Regions from separate parts of the Homo sapiens genome. Here regions 2, 3 and 4 are each linked to region 1. Evidence: fine-mapped expression QTL. A gene starts in region 1. Each other region holds a variant in brackets. All regions are shown on one strand. Distances are from middle to middle. Region 1 holds the start of SMIM38 (small integral membrane protein 38). Region 2 has its middle 21 kb from the start of SMIM38. Region 3 has its middle 41 kb from the start of SMIM38. Region 4 has its middle 15 kb from the start of MRGPRF.

What was found. PIP is the estimated chance that this variant, and not a neighbour inherited with it, causes the effect. A credible set is the group of variants that fine-mapping cannot tell apart.
Region 2: its variant is the best candidate, but not a certain one, in a credible set for the expression of SMIM38 in prefrontal cortex (CommonMind, PIP 0.56).
Region 3: its variant is the best candidate, but not a certain one, in a credible set for the expression of SMIM38 in lymphoblastoid cells (GTEx, PIP 0.54).
Region 4: its variant is the best candidate, but not a certain one, in a credible set for the expression of SMIM38 in whole blood (TOPMed, PIP 0.56).

Annotation. Positions count from the first base shown.
Region 1 is chr11:69,152,774-69,157,917 of GRCh38, forward strand. SMIM38 (small integral membrane protein 38) reads left to right here and starts at 3,162. Exons shown (of 3, transcript NM_001369201.2): 1 at 3,162-3,341; 2 at 4,401-5,144. The coding sequence starts at 5,074. The region is part of intron 2 of LOC338694 (a long non-coding RNA gene); the gene reads right to left. RefSeq lists silencers at 988-1,282, 4,528-4,887 and an enhancer at 2,716-3,643.
Region 2 is chr11:69,131,873-69,137,016 of GRCh38, forward strand. No RefSeq gene overlaps it. Among named protein-coding and RNA genes, the nearest start is that of SMIM38, 21 kb to the right of the region's middle. RefSeq lists an enhancer at 4,199-4,248. The variant CTTTTTTTTTTTTTTT/C (reference allele first, on the strand shown) is at 2,643.
Region 3 is chr11:69,194,625-69,199,768 of GRCh38, forward strand. No RefSeq gene overlaps it. Among named protein-coding and RNA genes, the nearest start is that of SMIM38, 41 kb to the left of the region's middle. RefSeq lists an enhancer at 1,580-2,204. The variant C/G (reference allele first, on the strand shown) is at 2,484.
Region 4 is chr11:69,025,373-69,030,516 of GRCh38, forward strand. No RefSeq gene overlaps it. Among named protein-coding and RNA genes, the nearest start is that of MRGPRF, 15 kb to the left of the region's middle. The variant A/G (reference allele first, on the strand shown) is at 2,734.

The sequences.
Region 1 (5,144 bases):
ATTGTGTTTTCTTTGTGAGCCTTAATCCGGTGTTGTATTGGCTTCTGGACATGGCTAATTTATTTGGAATTTCATTCTGTTCCTGACAGCGTCCTTGACTAGCTGTTTGATCACCCCGAGCAAAGTTACATACCAGCTTTCAACCGTTGGGAGGGCAGCGGCGTCCTTTTTCTCAAGTGCCTTCTCCTGGGTCGGGCTTTATGCCTGCAGCAGGGCGTTTCAAACGGCTGAGGCCATCCCTTGTTAGGGAGAGAAACCTCCCGGGCAGGGGTCTCCCTCAATGAGGAAGCCCTCCACTTCCCCCCACTCGTCCCACTGTTCGTGATTTTAATCTGCTTTTGTGGCGCAGGAAGAAAGAAAATTAATTTTCGCCCGTCTGTGTGTAGGGAGCATTTCAGTGGAAACCCGGTTTGAAATGCATGTTCTGTTGATTTCGGCAGCCTGCGCCGGCTGGGGTTTTGAGATGCAGCATTCTCAGGGGAAGAGGTGATGGGCCACAGGCCTTCGTGGGGTGGGAACTCAGGCTCCCCGTGGGCCCTGGACGGGGTCCTCATGTCCTGTGCTCCGTCTTGGCAGGAGTAAGAGTTGATGATGTTCATGCTCTCCCAACTCACCCATCTCTGCCATGGTTGCTTTTTTTTTTTTTTTTGGTTAAAGCAAGCATATTTTGCTGTTGCAAAAAGAAACAAAGAAAAAAATGATTTTCAACAGGACCCTGACATGTCTGAGAATGTCTCACTGTCAACAAGGCTGTAGGTGGTGGTTTTACAATTTTGGCGGAATCTGTTCTAAGGAAAACACGTGCTTCTTTTAATTTGGCCTCCCAGCTCCAATGCACGTGGCCGTCCTTGCTGAGAGTCTTCTGGGTGCCTGGAACTGTGCTAAGTCCTGGGGGATTCGGCGAGAGCTCGAGTTCTAGAAACACATGGAAGAGTTCAGAGGATGTTGGTGCTATGAAAATAACAAAACCAACCAACACACTGAGGCCCTGGGGGATGTGCCTGGTGGTCCCTGGGGGAGGGCGTTCAGTATTATTCCTGGGTCCTGCATTTGAGTCAGCCAAGTCCAGCTCATCTCGATGACATTTGGGCGGGGATTTCCCCTGCAAAGCACTCTTATCCCCAGCCTTGCTTGCAGAAGCTGGGAAGGGATTATCATCCCCTCACCGTTTTTTTTTTTTTTTTTTTTTTTTGAGATAAGGTGTTGCCCAGGCTGGAGTACAGTAGCTTGATCATGGCTCACTGCAACCTCTGCCTCCCAGGTTCAAGTGATCCTCCTGCCTCAGCCTCCTAGCTAGGTGGGACAACGAGTGTGCACCACCACATCCAGCTAATTTTTGTATTTTTTTTTTTTTTGTAGAGATGGGGTTTTGTCATGTTGCCCAGGTTGGCCTCGAACTCCTGAACCTTCTCACGTCGGCCTCCCAAAGTGCTAGGATTATTTTCCCCTTTTATTGAGGGGAGGAAACTGAGGCCCAGTGATGCTTCAGTGGAGACCAGCTTGCCTGGGGCTCACAGGAAGCTGTTCACAAGGTTCTTGGGGCTCTGTCCCAGGCTGTCACCTGTACTGAGGGCTGGTCCTGGGCGGGGACCAGGCTTTGGGGGCAAGAACTTGCACCTCCTTGTTACTTCCACTCCAGGCCTTCCCCACGGAGCTCACCTGTGGAGAGGTTTCCTCTGCCAAGCATTTCATCAGGAAACAGTGAGTGAGGGTGCGTCACTCACTGCTCTGTCAGCGTTGAACATTTGGGTGCAGGAAGATGCCTTGGCTCTTTGAGGTCCCGATGGCAACTTGCATCCCCAGATCCATCCTCAGAGGCCCGGGGCTGGGAGCATCCCCGGATCCATCCTCAGAGGCCCGGGGCTGGGAGCATCCCCGGATCCATCCTCAGAGGCCCGGGGCTGGGAGCCACCACCGCCCAGCTCCATGCGTTCCCATTGGCGGGGTCTGGGTCTGCGCTGATGAGGCGCTCGTCACTCTTATCCTGGATTATATTCACAGGCGGGTAACTCGGGGGGTGGTGTGATGGGGAGACACAGGAGGGAGGAGCAGGGAGGGCAAGATGAAGGGGAGCAGTCTGGGAAGGGGGCGACTCCAGGCACAGCCGCACGTCCCTGGGATTTTCAGGGGGAGCTCTGGGGGTTCAGAGTGGCCTCTAGTTTGTCCTGGTCCAAAGCAGGGAAGCTGGGCTACGTCCTGCCCAGGTCAGCCTTAGGTTAAGGGCTGCCTGGGGGAGGGAACTTCCTGGGCCTTCGGGTCTCTGTGCACTGGGGTGGCTCCTGTGGCCCAGAATGCCCTGGAGAAGGGTCCTACTGGAAGCGAAGGTGCAGGGCAGCAGGGCCTGAGGCGCAGGAGCTGGTGGAGGCTCCCAGCACAGGTCGCCGCCCCAGTCACATCACTGCTGATGGTGGGGGGACTTGGGGAGTTTCCCCCGAGAATGGGAGGTCTCACAGTCCCCGTGCTGCAATGCTGTCGGTGCACTGTGTCTGCAACGTGCTCATGGTCACTTGCTTTTTCTCTGTGGCCCCGGCCGCTTTATCCAGCAAGTAGCCCCCTCTCCTCTCCGGAGAAGCCGAGCCTGGATGCCGCTGGGAGGAGGTCACTCCCTTCCTGTCTCGAAGGGCATGCCGTCCTCGTCCTTGCTGACTCCCAGAGGCCCAGGGACGTCTGAGGGGGAGGGGCCGGGCCTCCTTGACCCCTGCGTGTGGACACCATGTGACTGGGGTGTGGTTGACTCTCTGTGTCCGATTGGGTGCTTGGCAAACACAGAGAGTTTTGTCCAAGGCCACCTTGGTCCCCACCTGTCCAGGTTGGGAGGTGCCCTGCCTGGTGTGGCCTGAGCTGAGCGCCTCTGGCCGGAGCAGACGGCCCCGGCTCCCCCAGGACATGTCACCTGGAGAGGTGGCCCTTTCAGGTAAGGGACATGCCCATTGGCAGCAGCCTCTGCCCCCTCCCTGCATACACAGCTGCTCCCATCTGGGGACCCTCACCCCACGTGCGGATGGGCTTCCCCAGGAAGTCGGCAGGACTTTCCCTGGCCTTCTGGAAGTCCCCATCAAGCAAATGCTCTATCGATGACTTACTCTATGACGGGGTCCAGAGAGCTAACTCCCCACCCACGTTCGAAGTGATCTTCAAACCGCTGCGCGTGGAAAACAAGCCCAGAGCTCAACGTTCCCTAAGTGAGTGGCCTTTGACAGCAGTGCCAGGCAGCCCAGTGGGTGCAGGGCACACCACAGATGGAGGAAGGGCCAGGCATGCTTCCCAGACAGCCTCTGCCAGTCCAGGCAGGGGCTCCAGGGTGGCTGCGGGAAGGCAGCTTAGGCGGTGCCCGGCCCAAGGTGAGTTGGCATCATGCTCCACTTCCCGTTTGAACGTGTGGTCCCGTTTGAACCTTCTGGAAAGGCTTGGCAGGGAGGACACTCATTTTGTAGACTGGGAAGGAACTGAAGAGCTGGCTTCCGGCGACCAGCGATGGGCCCCAGATCCCTGTGGCCAGGAAGGCCCCCATTGCTGTTCTCTGTAGCTCAGGCTGGACATTTGCTGGTGAGAACTGGCCGGACTCCCAGGACCCAGCCGCCAGAGACCTCTGTTCCTCACGCTCAGCCCCCTAGCTCCAACTGGGGCCCCTTTGCTTTACAGGATGTAGGCTTGGAGTTAGAGGGGGCAGTTCTGGCGGTTTATCTCTCACTCACAGAAACTCGGCTGTGAGAGGCCAGAGCTGGACTTGGGGGGCAGAGCCTGTAGAGGTCAATGTGTCCTTATTGGGTGTGCACACGTGTGAGTCTGTGTGCACACACATGTATACATGTGTATGCGTGTGTGTGTGTGTGTGTGCGCGCGTGTGGCAGTCAGAGAAGGCTGGGCAGACACTGTTATTTCAGAAAAGATGTGGAGGCCTTTCTGAAGGCATCCACTGAGAGGCAGGGGCCAGGATCTCTGTGCCCAGGCGCTGGGCGTGGCCCCTGAGAAGTGCTCTCTCCCCTAATCCTTCAAAGCAGGAGGTATTTGCTTCACTTTCTAAGGCAGGATCTGCGGCTCTGAGAGGTTGCACAACTTGCCCGAGGTCACTCAGCTAGTAGAAGGCAGGACTGGCCTCCGGTCCAGGGTGACTGTGAGGATGTCAGGGGACCCTGCAGGCCTGTGCGCCCCAGCTTAGGGCTACAGGTCCCACCTAAGGCTTCTTGATGGAGGTTGGAGGGGCGAGCTGGAGGGAGGTGCTGCTGGGGGTCCACCGGTCCCCTTCCTGGGGGATGAAGCCGGTTTCCCGCGCTGACCCCCTTGCCATCAGAGGCCCAGAGCGCGGTCCTTGTGCTGCTGAGCTGTGTTTGGGGCCGCCTGTGGGCTGTGGCCGCCTGTCCTCATCTTCTCCCCTTTTCTCCTTGGCTTTTCATCCTCAGGCTCCGTCCTTCTTCCCCGTGGTGGCCCCAGCCTCCCTGCCAAGCTTCCCGGCCCCCGCCCCATCCCGGGCCTGCTGCTGCGGAGACCGTGGGCCGGCGCTGGACGGCGCGGCCTCCAGAAGTGATAGCTAATTGGGGAGAGAAAGGGCCCAATTGTCTGGCGGGGCCGGAAGAGCCGCGTGGGCTGCTGAAAGCGTCGGGAGGAGGTGGCCGCTTCGCCCAGCAGCTGCCGCCGGGGATGTTTGCAGATTACGTCAGCGCTGGCGAGCAGGGGGCGCGGGGACAGCGAGGGGGGCGGGCTCCCGGCGGCCTCCCGCCCCCCAGGCCCCTGGACAATGCTGTCATTGTCAGCACGGAGAGTGGTTAATTCTGGATGAATGGTACACGGGCCTCTTGACCAAGGAGGCTGCTCGTCGTCCCCAGTCTGTCCTCTCACATGCCAGGGAGGCCCCGGGCTGGAGTCTGGCGGGCAGATCTGGCCTGCTTGGTGGCACCAGAGAGAACAGGGCGGTCCCTTGGGGGCGCCGGCTGCAGAGGCCCCAGGCTGGACGGAGCTTCCTGTCCTGGGTCTGCACAGCAGCCACTTGGCAGTGCCGGGCTAGGGTGGCAGGGCCCCACTGCATCTCGGTTCCAGGGCAGAGGCTGCTGCTGCCCTTTGGGGCTGACTTCAGGCATGACCTCCTGGCCAGGTGGCAGCTTTGGCCCTGACCCGCTCCTGGCCCTGCTGGTGGTGATCCTGCTAGC
Region 2 (5,144 bases), 21 kb before region 1:
CTGAAGCCAGCCCAGAAAGGTCTGGTTTCTGACCCACCCACCAGCTGTTGCCTTTCCCTGCAGACCGGGAAACGCGGTGTGGACTCTCACTGCTTCTCCGGCTTGGAAACGGCGTTCCTGTCTTTGCCTTCTCCCTGGGGCTGGAATCCCTCCTGGACAGGCCTAAGGCATGTCATGGGTCCCCCTCCCTCCCTGCTGTAACCCCAGAGCCCCCATGGGGAACCCGCAGCTTCCATCATCCTCAGGGGCCCAGTGTCCCAGGAGGGGACTGTGGAGAGGTGTTTGTACTCCTGGGTGTGTCTGGGCTGCCACTTGCCCAGGGTCTGGGAGGTGACCTTGTGCCAGATGGGGCTGGAAGCTCCCTGAGGGTAGGGGCGGGGCTTACCCTGGTGCACCTGTGTTGCACGTGGCCTCGGATCTCGTTCCTGTCATGTCTTGGGGTCTTTTCTATTCCCAAGGTTGTCGTAGGAAGGCGTTTGCTGACAAATGAGACCTGGCTCCCTCCAGATTCTGATTCTGTCCCTCTCTTCGTGAGCCTGGATGGGTCGGGCCCCCTGAAGCCTCATGCTTTCCTCCGGAAAACGGGAGGAGGAGGCTGGCTTGCTGATCCCCAAGGTCTCTCTCAGGACAGCCTTAGTGGTTTGGGGGGTGATGCTGCAGTCAGGCCTGGGTGGAAGTCCCAACTCCATTCCAGCCTCCCTGGGTGGCACTGGGTGACCTGGCACCTCCAGACCTCCGTTTACTCATCTGTAAAATGGAGAGAACCCAGGGCCCCCTGGGTACCTGACCACAGGGAATGCAGCTCCTTGGTTGTTCAGCACCATTTCTGCCACGTAAAGAGTGTTGCTCCTCTTCCTTCAATGTCATTACTTTCAATGATGAGGAGAGTGAAGTGATTTTTTTTTTTTTTGGGTGGAGTGTTATTGAGCCATAATTAGCACACAGCAAAAGTGGCTCTTTTTACAGTTTGGTGACTTCTGACAAAGACACAATCGTGCAACGACCACTGTAGTCCAGGCATAGTACAGCGCTGTCTCCCAGAAGTCCCTCAATGCTGCCCCTTGGCCGTCAACGCCTGCCCCCACCCCAGCCCCTAGAAACCAATGACCTGGTTTTTATTCCTGTGGTTTTCCAGCATGTCATAGAAATGGAAGTGTGCATTGTGCAGCTCTCTGCCTGTGACTCTATCACTTGCCATATGCATTTGAGATTCACCCATGTTGTTGTGTGTATCTGTAGATAGTTCCTTTTTACTGTTGAATATTGTGTGACCATTGCACGAAGGCTGGGTTGTATGAATATGCCACAGCTTGCTTTCCCACATACCAGTTAATGGACATTTGAGTTGTTTCCACTTGTGGCTGCTATGAATAAAGCTGCTGCAAACATTTGTATCCGGGTCTTTGGGTGCACATATGTTTTCTTCTGGGCACATGCCAGAAGTGGGATTATCACTGGATTGTATGTTAAGTGTACATTTAACTGTATAAGAAACTGCCAAACTCTTTCCTGACATGGCTGCATCGTGTTACGTTCCCAACAGCAAGGTATGAGAGTTCCAGTTGCTCCACATCTTTGTCAACACTTGGTATTGTCAGTTTTAAATTTTAGCCACTTTAGTAAGTGTATGGTGGTTTTAATTTGCCTTTCCTGACTCTCTAATGTTGTTGAACATCTTTTCAGTTTGCCATCCAGTTGCTTATTTGCTGTCTGTTTTCATCTTTGGTGAAGTGTCAGTTCAAATTTTGTGTATTTAAAAAATAGGCGTTGTTTTTCTTATGACTGAGTTGTAAGAGTTCTTCTATGTTCTAGATGAGAGATATTTATAATGTACACAATTTGGAAATATTGTCTCGTAGCCTGTGGCTTGTCTTTTCATTTTATTAGCAGTGTCTTTTGAGGAGAAATTTCTGTTTTGATGAGGTCTAATTTATGATTTTGTTCTTTTATACTTTGTGCTTTTTGAGTCCTACCTAAGAATTCATGCCTGTCTCAAAGTTGCAGAACTTCTGCTCTGTTTTCTTCCAGGCTTGTAGTTGTAGGTTTTACATTTAGGTCTGTGACCCTTTGGTGTGAATTCACTTTTGTCTACAGTGCCCTGCAGTGCCCACGTCCTGTGGCCACCAGCAGCTGGCCAGGCTTTCCCTGTCACAGTTGCCTTTGTCCACCTGGGCAGCTGGCTTGGCCAAGTCTTCTTTGCCACCTGTGAACAACAGATGTGAAGCTGTTGGGCCACCCTGCGGGTTTTGGTGCTGGTGTCAGCCTTTGCCCAACTGTTTGTCCTCAGAACTGCAGGGTGACTGTATTAGTTCATTTGCACATTGCTATAAGGAAATACCTGAGATTGGGTAATTTATAAAGAAAAGAGGTTTAACTTGCTCACCATTCCACAGGCTGTACAGGAAGCATGGCTGGGGAGGCCTCAGGAAACTTACAATCATGGCAGAAGGCGAAGGGGAAGCAGACATGTCTTACATGGCTGGAGAAAGGGGAAGAGAAAACAGAGGGAAGAGCCACACACTTTTAAACAACTGGATCTCACTCATAGTGAGAACTCACTCACTATGACCAGAAAAGCAAGGAGGAAATCCACCCCCATGACCCAGTCACCTCCCACCAGGCCTTTCTTTTTCTTTTTCTTT[CTTTTTTTTTTTTTTT/C]TTTTTTTTTTGAGACAGAGTTTCGCTCTGTTGCCCAGGCTGGAGTGCAGTGGTGCAATCTTGGCTCACTGCAACCTCCGCCTCCTGGGTTCAAGTGATTCTCCTGCCTTAGCCTCTTGAGTAGCTGTGACTACAGGCACGTGCCACCACACCTGGCTAATTTTTTGTACTTTTAGTAGGGATGGGGTTTTGCTGTGTTAGCCAGGATGGCCTCGATCTTCTGACCTCCTGATCTGCCCACCTCAGCCTCCCAAAGTGCTGGGGTTACAGGTGTGAGCCACCACGCCTGGCCTCACCAGGCCTTTCTTTCAGCACTGGGAATTATAATTCAACATGAGATTTGGATGGGAATACAGAGCCAAACCATATCAGTGACCTTGTCTAGGGGACCCCAAGGCTGGATCCTGCCCACTGCTTAGAAAATGCAGTTGCTGGATGAGCCACCACTGCTGTCCTTTCCAGCCCCGGGCAGCTGCTGCTTGCCTGTGACCCAGGAGTTCTCCTCCTCCTCTCTGTCCAGCCTGGAGGCACCTTCCCTATCTGTGTGTGGGCTGAGCCACCCAGCCCAAACACAAACATTTTTATCAGACTCTACCCACTCTCCTCACCCGCCAGCAGGTTCCTGGCCCCATTTCTCAGGGTGGGGGGAGTGAGTTATTTGTCTAAGGTGGAACAGTGTGAGTGGCAGAACTGGGAATCGATCCCTCGATGCCATGTAACTTTCCCAGGTCAGGTCTCACCACGTCAGGCCGCCTAAATCTGCATCCACGCGGGAACCTGGGTGTGATTTAACCAATGTCATTGGCAGGAGCTTATTTCAGGGTGAGGGTGCTGCCGGTCCCCCTCCTGGACAGTGGGTCTCCTCCGGGTTGCAAATTTCTTGTGTTTTGTGTCTCTTCCCTCAGTGACCCAGGAGGCTCTCACGTGGAGTCCCCAGAACAGCATCAACTCCTCACGATGCTCCTGACGGTGGTGGACAGACTCTCCATGCCCCGATGAAGTTGTGAGTCACATACATCCCCGTCCACAGCACCCGGTACTCAGTAGGTGGTCCCATAAATGTTTGTGGCACAAGTGAATGAACTTGGAACCATCCATCTAGTGGAAATTGTAAATTATAACAAAACCCAATGGACCGTGAAAGCCAGGGTCAAGGCTGGGGCCTGCTGAGGCCCTGTCATCGAGGGAGTTTTTGTGCTGGTAAAGATGATGACTGCCCTGGTGCAGGGCCCGTGTAGCCCAACATGTCTAGTCCGTGGCGGGCTCTTACTGGGGATGAGGGGCCTCCAGGAGGAGCAGGCCTGGGCACAGACTTCTGACCTGGGCACAGTTGGGAAGGGTGACAAGGGGTCAGAGCAGGCTCTTGGCCTCAGGTCAAAGGACAGGAGTCCTCCTGACTCTGCTGTGTCTGAAGCCCACAGTGAATGCAATGCAGAAAAAGCAGTGCTTGACCCTTTGTTTTCTCCGGGGTTAGGATCCCTGATATGATTGGGCTGTGTCCCCACCCAAATCTTGCCTTGAATTGTAATGATCCCCACATGTCAGGAGTGGGGCCAGGTGGAGATCATTGAATCACGGGGGTGGTTTCCCCTGTACTGTTCTTGTGGTAGTGAATAAGTCTCATGAGATCTGATGGTTTTATAAAGGGGAGTTCCCCGGCACATGCTCTCTCTTGCCTGCCCCCATGGAAGATGTGTCTTGCTTCTCCTTTGCCTTCTGCCATGATTGTGAGGCCTCCCTGGCCATGTGCAACTGTGAGTCAATTAAACTTCTTTCCTTTAAAAATTACCCAGTCCCAGGTATGTCTTTATTAGCAGCATGAGAACAAACTAATGTGATCTCACAGAGAGCAGCGCTGGTGGTCAGAAGGAAGCTTCTGTGTTTGAGGAGGGACACTCAGGTCCCACCCCAAGCCCATGCCGTGACCTGGGGCTGCAGTTATTTTGATTCCCATTATGTGGGGAACCAAGACCCAGAGAGGGAGGACACTTGCCTGGGACTGCCCAACTTTGGAAGGAAGATCCTGCCCCTCAGTTGGGGAGGCCTGGATGGCACTGGCGGCCGGGGAGGTGCGGCAGGAGCGAGGACTGATGGGTGAGTGCAGGCTGCATGCAGCCTTGCTGGGACCTTGTGGGAGGGGAGACCCTGAGTCCTGATGGGAGTTCGAGAAACCCAGGACCAGCAGAGGTGAGGAACAGGCCTGGCCTGCTTTCCTCCTGTCCGTGAGCTGGCCGTGGGTTCCACCGACACGGCCCTGCCCTGGGACCTTGGTGGACAGGCAGAGAGGCTGTGTATACATCAATGGCCTGGGTTCCTGCAGGGCTCAGGGTCCCCTGGTCTCAGCAAGGGCCTCAAGAATGGCTGGAGAAGGGAACACACCTTTGTCAGGGACTGTCCAGCTGCCAGGCTTGGTGCTGCAGCCTCTCCACCTGCAGCCTCACCAATCCCTCCAAGCTGGGGTTTCTCCACTGTGGTGGCACTATCCAC
Region 3 (5,144 bases), 42 kb after region 1:
GGTGATGATGATGATGATGGTCATGATGATGATGATGATGGTGATGGTGATGGTGATGATGGTAGTGGTGGCAGTGGTGATGATGATGGTGATACTGGTGATGGTGATGGTGGTGATGGTGATGATGATGGTGGTGGCCAGTGGTGATGATGATGGTGATACTGGTGATGGTGATGGTGGTGATGGTGATGATGATTATGGTAGGCGGCAGTGGTGGTGATGACAGTGATACTGGTGATGGTGATGATGGTGATGATGATGGTGATACTGGTGATGGTGATGGTGATGGTGATGATGATGATGATGATGGTGGTGGCAGTGGTGGTGATGATGGCGATACTGCTCATGATGATGATGGTGATGATGATCCGTGATGGTGATGATGATGCTATCGGCAGTCGTGATGATGATGGTGATGGTGATGGTGGTGATGGTGATGATGGTGATGATGATGATGGTGATGGTGGTGATGGTGATGATGGTGGTGGCAGTGGTGATGATGATGGTGATGATGATGATGATGGGGTAGTGGTGGTGGTAGTGATTGTGATGACGATGGTGATGATGATGATATGGCAATAGTGGTGATGGTGATGGTGGTGATAATGATGAATAAATCGTCATCATTTAGCACTTGTTATATGCTTAGATCTGTCCCAGCCATGGGGATACCACAATGAACAAGACAAGTATGGTTCCTGCTCTCCTGAGAATCAGTACTACTGATGGCAATAGCCAGTGGGTAAGTTAACCGACCCATGAGCAAAGTAACATTTCAGAGGGAGGAGCTGGAGAGTTGTGTGAAGTGTGGGGCAGCCCAGTAGGCTCCTTGGAGGAGGTGACATGTGGATGAAGAGACGGGGGGAGCCACCATCATGAGGGGCAGAGAATTTATATTGGCTCAGATAACTAGGACATCTGGGGTTGCATCTAGCATTGGGAACAGGCGTTAAAGATGCCCTCTCGCTCCCCCTCTCTCCTCTCTGCCTCTCCTGACTACCTTTTGACTTCCATGGTACCCCGAATCAATGCCACTCTTACGGCTTCCAAGATCCGTTGTCCCGGGCTAGTTGTGTCCCCTCCCTGGAACTCAGTGGTCCCATCTGGAAAGTGTGATGGGGAACGCTAGCCAGACACCCCTGTGGTCCCTTCCATCTCTGGGGTCCCGAGTGCCTGGCCCTGTGCTGGCGCCCTTGTTGGGCCATGGAGTAACTGACAGTAAGCAGTGGGCATGAGGAGCACTTCCTGCTTCAGGGCCTGCGGGAGGGTGAACAGTTCACTTCACAGTAGGTCTCTGTGGCTTACCTGGGATGGAGCTGGCTCCAGGAGCAATTTCCCCTGGATGAAACAATCTTTGGAATCCACCGTATATCACTCGCCATGACGTCTTCTGTTTAAACAGCGGCAGCCGGCAGAGGGTGAGCGAGGAGGCCGTGCTGGGAGGAGGGCCCATGTCCCAGCCCCCAACCCCGGCCCCGGTGGAAGGCCCCGCTATGGGGGAAAGCAGGCATATGGAACCCATTTGGGAAATTCTTTCTGCATAAACCACTTTTTCCAGGTAAGACACATGCCCATATTGACTGGGAAAGATGCAATACCTCTTACACTTTGCCGGCTACATTTTTATGGACCTTAATTAAACCCACGGTCTGCCGGGTTGGGAAATTGGACACTCTTTGTGCGGCGCCTTCTTAAGAAGTACTGTTGGCCCAGGGGAGGCCAATTATAACCTCGCGTCCTCCCCACCTCCCAGGACCTCACAGACCCTCCAAGCGCTTGGAAAATGTGCGCTCGACAGAGGGCCTTTGATTCTGCTTGCCTGGACAGCGTTAGGCCTGTTTCCAGGCCTGAGGCAAGTGGTGGTCAGGGTCCCAGGCGGCCGGCGGAGGGGCCACAGAGACCGGAGTTTTCAAACTTCATTGAGCACCAGCGCTTTCCTTTCATGCCCAATCGCATGGAGACCTCGGATAGAAACCAGATGAGCCTGCTGGGGCTGAAGGGGGAGGTTGGTGGGGGGTGCACGTGGCCCCTTGCTCACCCCCAGCTCCTGTTCGCCATGAGGTGACAGCGAGGACAGCCGCCTGGGTGTTCAGTGAGTTGTTAACGCCTGGATGGTTGTGCTCGTTATCCTGTTTAACAGGCACAGGCCAAGTGAGGTAGGTGCTGTTACCATTGCCATTTCACACCTGAGGGAACCTAGGCGCAGAGCAGCAGAGGGACGGGCCCAGGGTGGCCCGGCCGGAGCAGGAGGAGTGGTGGGGTTTGGGTCCTGGAAGCCCGTGTGCGTGGCCGCCTCTCCAGAAGGCTGCTGGGGAGCTACTGATTGGGCCCAAGCCTCTCTTTTGACGGTGCTCCGGGCTCAGTGCTGTGCCTTCCACTCCCGGTGGCCCCTGCCTGTGCGTGATCTCCACAGCACAGCCCCCTTCTTGTGTCGGGTAGTGGCCTAGGCCCCTCCTATGCTTGGGTTCATGGATCCAGCAGGC[C/G]GGGGGGGTCCTCTCACCGCTGGAGGGGCTACTCTGCCAGCCTCTCTGGTTGGGTGGAACCTGCCCTTGACTAGCATACATGGTCCGGGGCACCCCAGGACTTTTCAAGGATGCCTTTGGTTGGAGGAGAAGGTGTCTTTGCTTTGGTCCTTTTTGTGCTCTGGGCTTCCACGAATATTTCATTTTTAGGGAAGAGATTCGTTAATCAAGAAAAGTGTCCCCTGGATGAGCTTTTCCTGGGATTGGCTCTTCCTGGGATGCTCAGGTCATGGCCCCAGAAACCCCAACCTAGCCAAGGGAGCATGTTAGGAAGCCAGGCCAATGGAGGGATAATTTACATGCGGTAACATCCATCCTTTCAAGGTGTATGCTTTGGTGAATTTTGACAAATGCAAGTAGTCACAGACACCCTCGTAATCAAGATACGGAAGATTTCTATCACCTCCAAAGCTCCCTCGTGCGTCCTCCCACCCCAGCCCCCCAGTGGTGGATCCGTTTTTGGTCCTCATAGCTCTGCCTTTTCTAGAATCGCATCAATAGACCCATGCAGTTGGCAGTCTCTTCAGTGTGGCTTCTTTCACTTTGTATTATGCCTTTAACATCCAGCCATAGTTACAGGGACATCGCTGGCACCTCGCAGGCTGGGTGGCCTCAGGGAAGATGGAGCTGGGCTCACCCCGGGTACCCTGGAGCAGTCGAGCTCTCTGGCAGGTAGAGCAGGGTGGGTCCAGAAGCTTCTGCTAGTCTTTGTTTCCTCATTAACTCAGGAATGTTAATCAGTGCTGACTTCTTGGGGTTGATGGGAAATGATGGGCCATTTGGATACTTGCTCAGGGACTGTGCACAGTGGCTCATGCCTGTGATCCCAAGGTTTTGGGAGGCTGAGGTGAGAGAAGCACTTGAGGCCAAGAATTTGAGACCAGCCTGGGCAACATAGTGAGACCCCATCACTAGATATGTGCTCCTGACCTCATAGCACAGAAACCCAACCAGAAAGGATTCAATAAGTCTGGATGAGGATGGCTCCAGGGCAGCTTCATCCAAGCACTCATGACATCAGTGATCTGGGTGACTCCTCAGCTGCAAGATGGTGGCAGCTTCTTCTAGCATCACGTCCCTACGGGACAACATCCAAGTGGGAAGGGGCACTTCCCTGTGGTGTTCCCCTCTGTTAGCAAGAAACCCTTTTCCGGGAGCAGCCCCCAGTTTCAGCAGTCTTCCCTGTGCCTCACTGGTCAGGGTGTGTCCCATGCGTCATGTCTACACCAATCTCCAGCAACAGACGGGAGCTGCCAGGAGAGGGTGAAGCCTGAGCAGCCTTTGCTCTGGGCTGGAGAGGGGCTGGTGAAGCACAGAGCAGATAATGCCTGGATAAGACGGGGGCTCTCCGGGCAAGGGAAGGAGGACGTGCCCAGAGGTGGGGAACTGGCCGTCTGCTAGATGCTGTGTGTGAGTCTGATTGCAAGGAGGTTCTCTGTCTACAAAAGACCAGAACAGGAGGGAGCCATTAGGGAAGAAGGCCACCAACATGGCCGGCTGACTGTGGTTGGCCTTCCTCAGGGCTGAGGCTTAGATAGGGTGAGCCTATCTTGTAGATGTTCCTCAAAGGAGAGGACACAAATGAGCAATTTGTGACCTTTGTGTGCTTGCTGTCCATACCTTCATCCTTCCATCTCTCCATCTATCCATCCGTCTCTCCATCCCTTCCTAATCCATTCATCCCTTCATCCATCCCCTTCATCCATCCATCATCCATCAATCTCTCTATCCCTCCATTCATCCATCAATCTCTTCATCCTTCCATCCACCTATTATCCATCCACTTCTCCATCCATCCATTCATCTATCCTTTATTCATTTATCCATTTATCCATCCATCCATCTCTCTATCTCTTCATCCATCCATCCACTCATCTATCCATCTCTCCACCCCTCCATACATCCATTCATCAGTTGTCCTTCCATTAATTCGTCCATGTTTCCATCCCTCCAGCAGTCTCTCCATCCCTCCATCTCTCCATTCATGTATCATCCCTCCACCCATCATCCATCCATATCTCCATCCATCCACTCATTGATCCTCCATTTATTCATCCATCCACCCACCCATCCATCCATCCATCCATCCATCCATCCATCCATCTCCTATCTCTCCATGCATCCGTCTCTCATTTCTCCATCCCTCCATCTCACCATTGCTCTATCACTGCATCCTTCTATCCCTCCATGTCTCCATCCCTTCTTCCAAGTAACAACCAAGCACTTGCTCTGGGTGGGCCCTGTGCTGGGTCCTGGAGAGAAGGGGAGAAACTGGGCTCTGTCGTTCAGGACTTTGGCAAGGGCCCCTCACGGTTGGGGTGTGGAGGCGTGGTTTCCCTTGGGGCTTTCCCCATAGTGAGCATGTGATGCTTTCAGGGGAACACTGCCTTTTAATTTTTATCCCAAGATTCAAGCAGCACAGATCCTCTCTTGCTTCACAGCCCCTGTCCAATCCTGCCTTTCATTAACTAACTTTAGTAACTTTCCTCGCTGTGTTTAATTAAGATTCATACGAGCAAGACTTGAAGGAACACAAGCATCTCAGTGCGGCTGGGCCGGCCTTTAGTCTTGGGCTTTTTACCTCTTGCCCGTGGTGGTGCTGGCTGCAGAGGACCCCCTGAG
Region 4 (5,144 bases), 130 kb before region 1:
CACTTCAGCCTGGGTGATAGAGCAAGATTCCATCTCAAAAAAAAAAAAACAACAAAAAACAAAAAAACAAAAAAACAAAAAAAAAAAGAAAAGAAAGAAAATGGTTGAACATTGGCAATTTTACATGGTAAAACCAACTGTTTCAGTCCTAGGTTCTTCATGGTGAGTTAACCACTGCCAGGGAACTCTGGGGTGGGGGTGGGGGGTCAAGCCATTCTGATTATTAATCCAGTTCTCTGTGATGTAACGACACCCTCCCTGTCTGCGTGGTGAACTGTCCCTTGGCCCCGCCACTTTGGGATTCCACCATCCTCACTGAATTCAGGAAGCCCATTTCAATGGCAGCATCTCCCACTGTCACTCCTAGCCTGCAGAGAGCAGCCACTACAAACTCTTCAAACATGCTGATGTTCCTGACCCAGTGTCTTTCTCAATGCTTGGGTGAGGGGCCCTCCTGAGGGCCTAGTTAGGGGATGAAAGAGTAGATTGCGGCTGGGCGCAGTGGCTCACGCCTGTAATCCCAGCACTTTGGGAGGCCGAGGCAGGTGGATCACCTGAGGTCAGGAGTTCAAGAGCAGCCTGACCAATATGGTGAAACCCTGTCTCTACTAAAAATTTAAAAAATTAGCCGGACGTGGTGGCAGGAGCCTGTAGTCCCAGCTACTTGGGAGGCTGAGACAGGAGAATTGCTTGAACCCAGGAGGTGGAGGTTGCAGTGGGTCGAGATTGCGCCACTGCACACCAGCCTGGGTGACAGGGCTAGACTCCATCTCAAAAAAAAAAAAAAAAAAAAACAACAGAGTAGACTGTACATGATACATTCACTCCAGTATTCCTCTCCTTAACTCTGGGTTTTTTTTTTTCTGTTTTGGTTTTGTTTGTTTGTTTGTTTTTCGAGACAGGGTCTCTCTCTGTCATCCAGGCTGGAGTGCAGTGGTGTGATCACAGCTCACTGCAGCCTCATCCTCCTGGGCTCAGGCCTCCTGAGTAGCTGGGACCACAGGTGCGCACCACCACACCTGGCTAATTTGTTCCATTTTTTTGTAGAGATGAGGCTTCACCTTGTTGCCCAGGCTGGTCTCAAACTCCTGTGCTCAAGTGATCCATCTGTCTTGGCCTCCCAAGTGCTGGGATTCTGGGTGTGAGCCACTGTGCTTGGCCCTACTCTTTGGACACCTTTCTCTACTGCAGTGGCTCTCAATCAGGGGAGATTTTGCCCCCCATGGGGACACTTAGCAATGTCCAGAGGCATCTTTGGTTGTTATGGCTGGGAGGGGTACGTTTCTAGCATTGAGTGGGCAAGGGATACTGCTAAGGTCCCCACAACCTCCCCCAACAGCAAAGAGCCATCTGGCCTCAAATATCAATAGTGCTGAAGTAGAAAAACTCTGCTCCACGGAATTCCAAAGAAGTCCTGGAATCCCATCTTCATTTAAAATGGGTCACCACTGGGCTGGGTGCAGTGGCTCATGCCTGTAATCCTAGCACTTTGGGAATGGAGGTGGGTGGATCACTTGAGCTCAGAAGTTTGAGAACAGCCTGGCCAACATAGTGAAACCTCATCTCTACTAAAAATACAAAAATTAGCCAGGCGTGGTGGCAGGCACCTGTAGTCCCAGCTACTTGGGAGGCTGAGGCAGAAGAATTGCTGGAACCCGGGAGATGGAGGTTGCAGTGAGCTGAGATTGTGCCACTGCACTCCAACCTGGGTGACAGAGCAAGACTCCATCTCAAAAAAAAAAACAAAAAACAAAACAAGGCCTGGCATGGTGGCTCATGCCTGTAATCCCAGCACTTGGGAGGCCGAGGCAGGTGGATCACTTGAGGTCAGGAGGTCGAGACCAGCCTGGCCAACTGGGTGAAGCCCTGCCTCTACTGAAAATACAAAAATTAGCTGGGCATGGTGGCGGGTGCCTGTAATTCTAGCTACTCAGGAGGCTGAGGCAGGAGAATCGCTTGAACCCAGGAGTAAGAGGTTGCAGTGAGCAGAGATCGTGCCATTGCACTCCAGCCTGGGCAACAAGAGTGAAACTCTGTCTCAAATAAATAAATAAATAAAAACATGGGTCACCACTGCTCCAGGTTTCAGTTGATGGAATGGGCCAACTCTGAGAGCCACTCCCAGGTGCTGAGTGGACACGTGGAGCTCAGAATCTCTGGTGAGTGCACCATATCAAAATAATTAAGCCTGACCCGGCATTACTTTCTTCCCCCACCCCGCCGGTCTGACACCCTTAGGGTTTGTTCCCCTACAGATTTCCTAGGTTTCTGCCAGTATGAACCGGAAATAGCTTGCAATTCTTTTGTTGTGTATAGTACATCTTCCTGGGTCAGATTTTGTGGCCACATTCCTGGAGCTCACCGGGATTTCGATCTAGAAGCTGGAGGTGGTAGGGGCTCTTGAGGAAGAGTCTACCCTAGGATTAGAATCTTCCCAAATGGAATCCGTTCCACCATTCAGGGATCCACTCTTTCCCCGTCAGTGCCCTGACTTTCACAGAAGAGAAACTTGCGGCCCTGAGTTCAAGTGTAGTAGTTGAACTTGATTCTATTTTGCCACCCAGGGGATCAGAGTTTGGATTTGTTTATTTTTTTGATCTCTCAACTCTGTGGCTACAAGAGATATGGACTTCTTTTCAAGCACCAGTGGAGGGTTTCTGGTACTTTAGGTCTTGAACTGGATATTTAAAACCCTGAGCTCCTATTTTTTTCCCCCAGCAAATTCTCCGGTGC[A/G]ATAGGAGGAGGCCACCAACTTCACAGGATGCAAACTCTGTATTTCACCATCGCGTTCTGTTGCAACAGCTACCGTTGCCTGTTTGCCTTCTGCAGGCACTTGACCCCATGTGATTGCTGATGAGGACTGCAGCAAGCTTCCCACACCTTCCCCAGCCCCACCCTCCAGCTCCTCCTGCATTTATGGAAGCACTGATTTCTATAGTAAGCCCCTTTTTCTCTGGAATGCATGGAGTGGCCCTGCTTTCCTCTCCAAACTCAGATGGATATGGTTTTTAATTTTTTAGTTTAAAAAAATTTCTTTTTGGCCAGGCACGGTGGCTCACGCCTGTAATCCCAGCACTTTGGGAGGCCGAGGCGGGCAGATCACAAGGTCAGGAGATCGAGACCATCCTGGCTAATACAGTGAAACCCCATCTCTACTAAAAATACAAAAAATTAGCCGGGCGCAGTGGCGGGCACCTGTAGTCCCAGCTACTCGGGAGGCTGAGGCAGGAGAATGGCGTGAACCTGGGAGGCGGAGATTGCAGCGAGCCCAGATAGCACCACTGCAGTCCGGCCTGGGTGAAAGAGCAAGACTCCATCTCAAGAAAAAAAAAAAAAAAATTCTTTTTGAGACAGGATCTCACTCTGTCACCCAGGCTGGAGTGCAGTGCAGTGGCATGATCACGGCTCTCTGCAGCCTCAACCTCTGGGCTCAAGCGATCCTCCCATCTCAGCCTCCCGAGTAGCTGGGACCACAGGCACGCACAACACCCGGCTAATTTGTTGTGTTTTTTGTAGAGATAGGTTTTTGCAGTGTTGGCCAGGTTGGGTCACAAACTCCTGGTTTCAAGTGATCTGCCTGCTTCACCCTTTCAAAGTGCTGGGATTACAGGGATGAGCTACTGTGCCTGGCCAAAAAAATATTTTTTTAGAGATAGGGCCTCACTCTGTTGCCCAGGCTGACTGGAGTGGCGTGATTGTAGCTCATTGCAGCCTCCAACTCCTGGGCTCAGATGATCCTCCCACCTCAGCCTCCCGAGTAGCTGGGACTACAGGCAGGCCTATGCTACCACAATTGGCTATTTTTATGATTTCTTTTTTTTTTTTTTTTCTGGTAGAGACAGGGTCTCGCTATGTTGCCCAGGTTGGTCTTGAGCTCCTGGCCTTAAGCAACCCTCCTCCCTCTGTTTCCTAAAGTGCTGGGATTACAGGTGTGAGCCACTGCACCCAGCCTACTATACGTCTTTTGAAAACCTCTCTAGGCTGGGTGAGGTGGCTCATGCCTGTAATCCCAGCACTTTGGGAGGCTGAGATGGGCAGATCACAAGGTCAAGAGATCGAGACCATCCTGGTCAACATGGTGAAAGCCAGCCTCTACTAAAAATACAAAAATTAGCCAGGCGTGGTGGCACATGCCTGTAATCCCAGCTACTCAGGAGGCTGAGGCAGGAGAATTGCTTGAACCTGGGAGGCAGAGATTGCAGTGAGCAGAGATCGTGCCGAGATCGCGCCATTGCACTCCAGCCTGGAGACAGAGCGAGACTCCATCTCAAAGAAAAAAAAAAAAGAAAACCCGTCTCATTGTTAAACTCTTACCAGGAACCTTATAGAGAAGGGGATTCAAGGACTTGCAGCCTTAGAGGGATGTGCTGGCGGGGCCACGTTACTCTTTCTTGGTTTAGTGTAGATTTTGTTGTTGAGAACCTTTGTGTTTTTATTCTTGTGGCAACCCTCCCCCAATACCTTCATATGATACCTTTAATCCCCTCTTTTTTGGCAGGGGGGATTGTCGATTGGTTTTCTTTTGTTGATTGGTGTTCTTTACTCAGTTTAAAAATTTTTTATTTTATTTTATTATTTCAGAAAAATTTTCTTGAATTATAATTATTATTTGTTCTGCTTCATTGCTTTGGTTTTCTTCTGGGATTCCTATTGTATGTATCTTGAATCTTATTTGCCTATTTTCTATAGCTATAATTTTCTCTAGACTTTTTTTTTTTTTGGCTTCAACATTTCTTTTTGGTTTAAAATTTTTTCTGCTTTCTTTCTTTCTTTCTTCTTTCTTCCCCCTTCCCTCCCTTTCTTCCTCCCTCCCTCCTTTCTTTTTTTCTCTCTCTCTTTCTTCCCCTCCCTCCCTCCCTCTCGTCCTTCCTTCCTTCCTTCCTTCTTTCCTTCCTTCCCTTCTTTCTAGATAAGAGTCTTGTTTTGCGCAGGTTGGACTTGAACTCCTGGGCTCAAGCGATCCTCCCTCCTCAGTCCCCGAGTAGTTGTGACCGCAGACATGAGCCTCAACAGCCTGCTTTTCCTAGTCTGTTTCTCTTAAGGCTTTATTTGTGGTACTCATTTGCCCTTCTACTCCTTTTAGTTTCAGTCTTCATTTCTTAATTCCTTTTCTCTTTTAAACTCCTTTCTGATTTCATCATCTC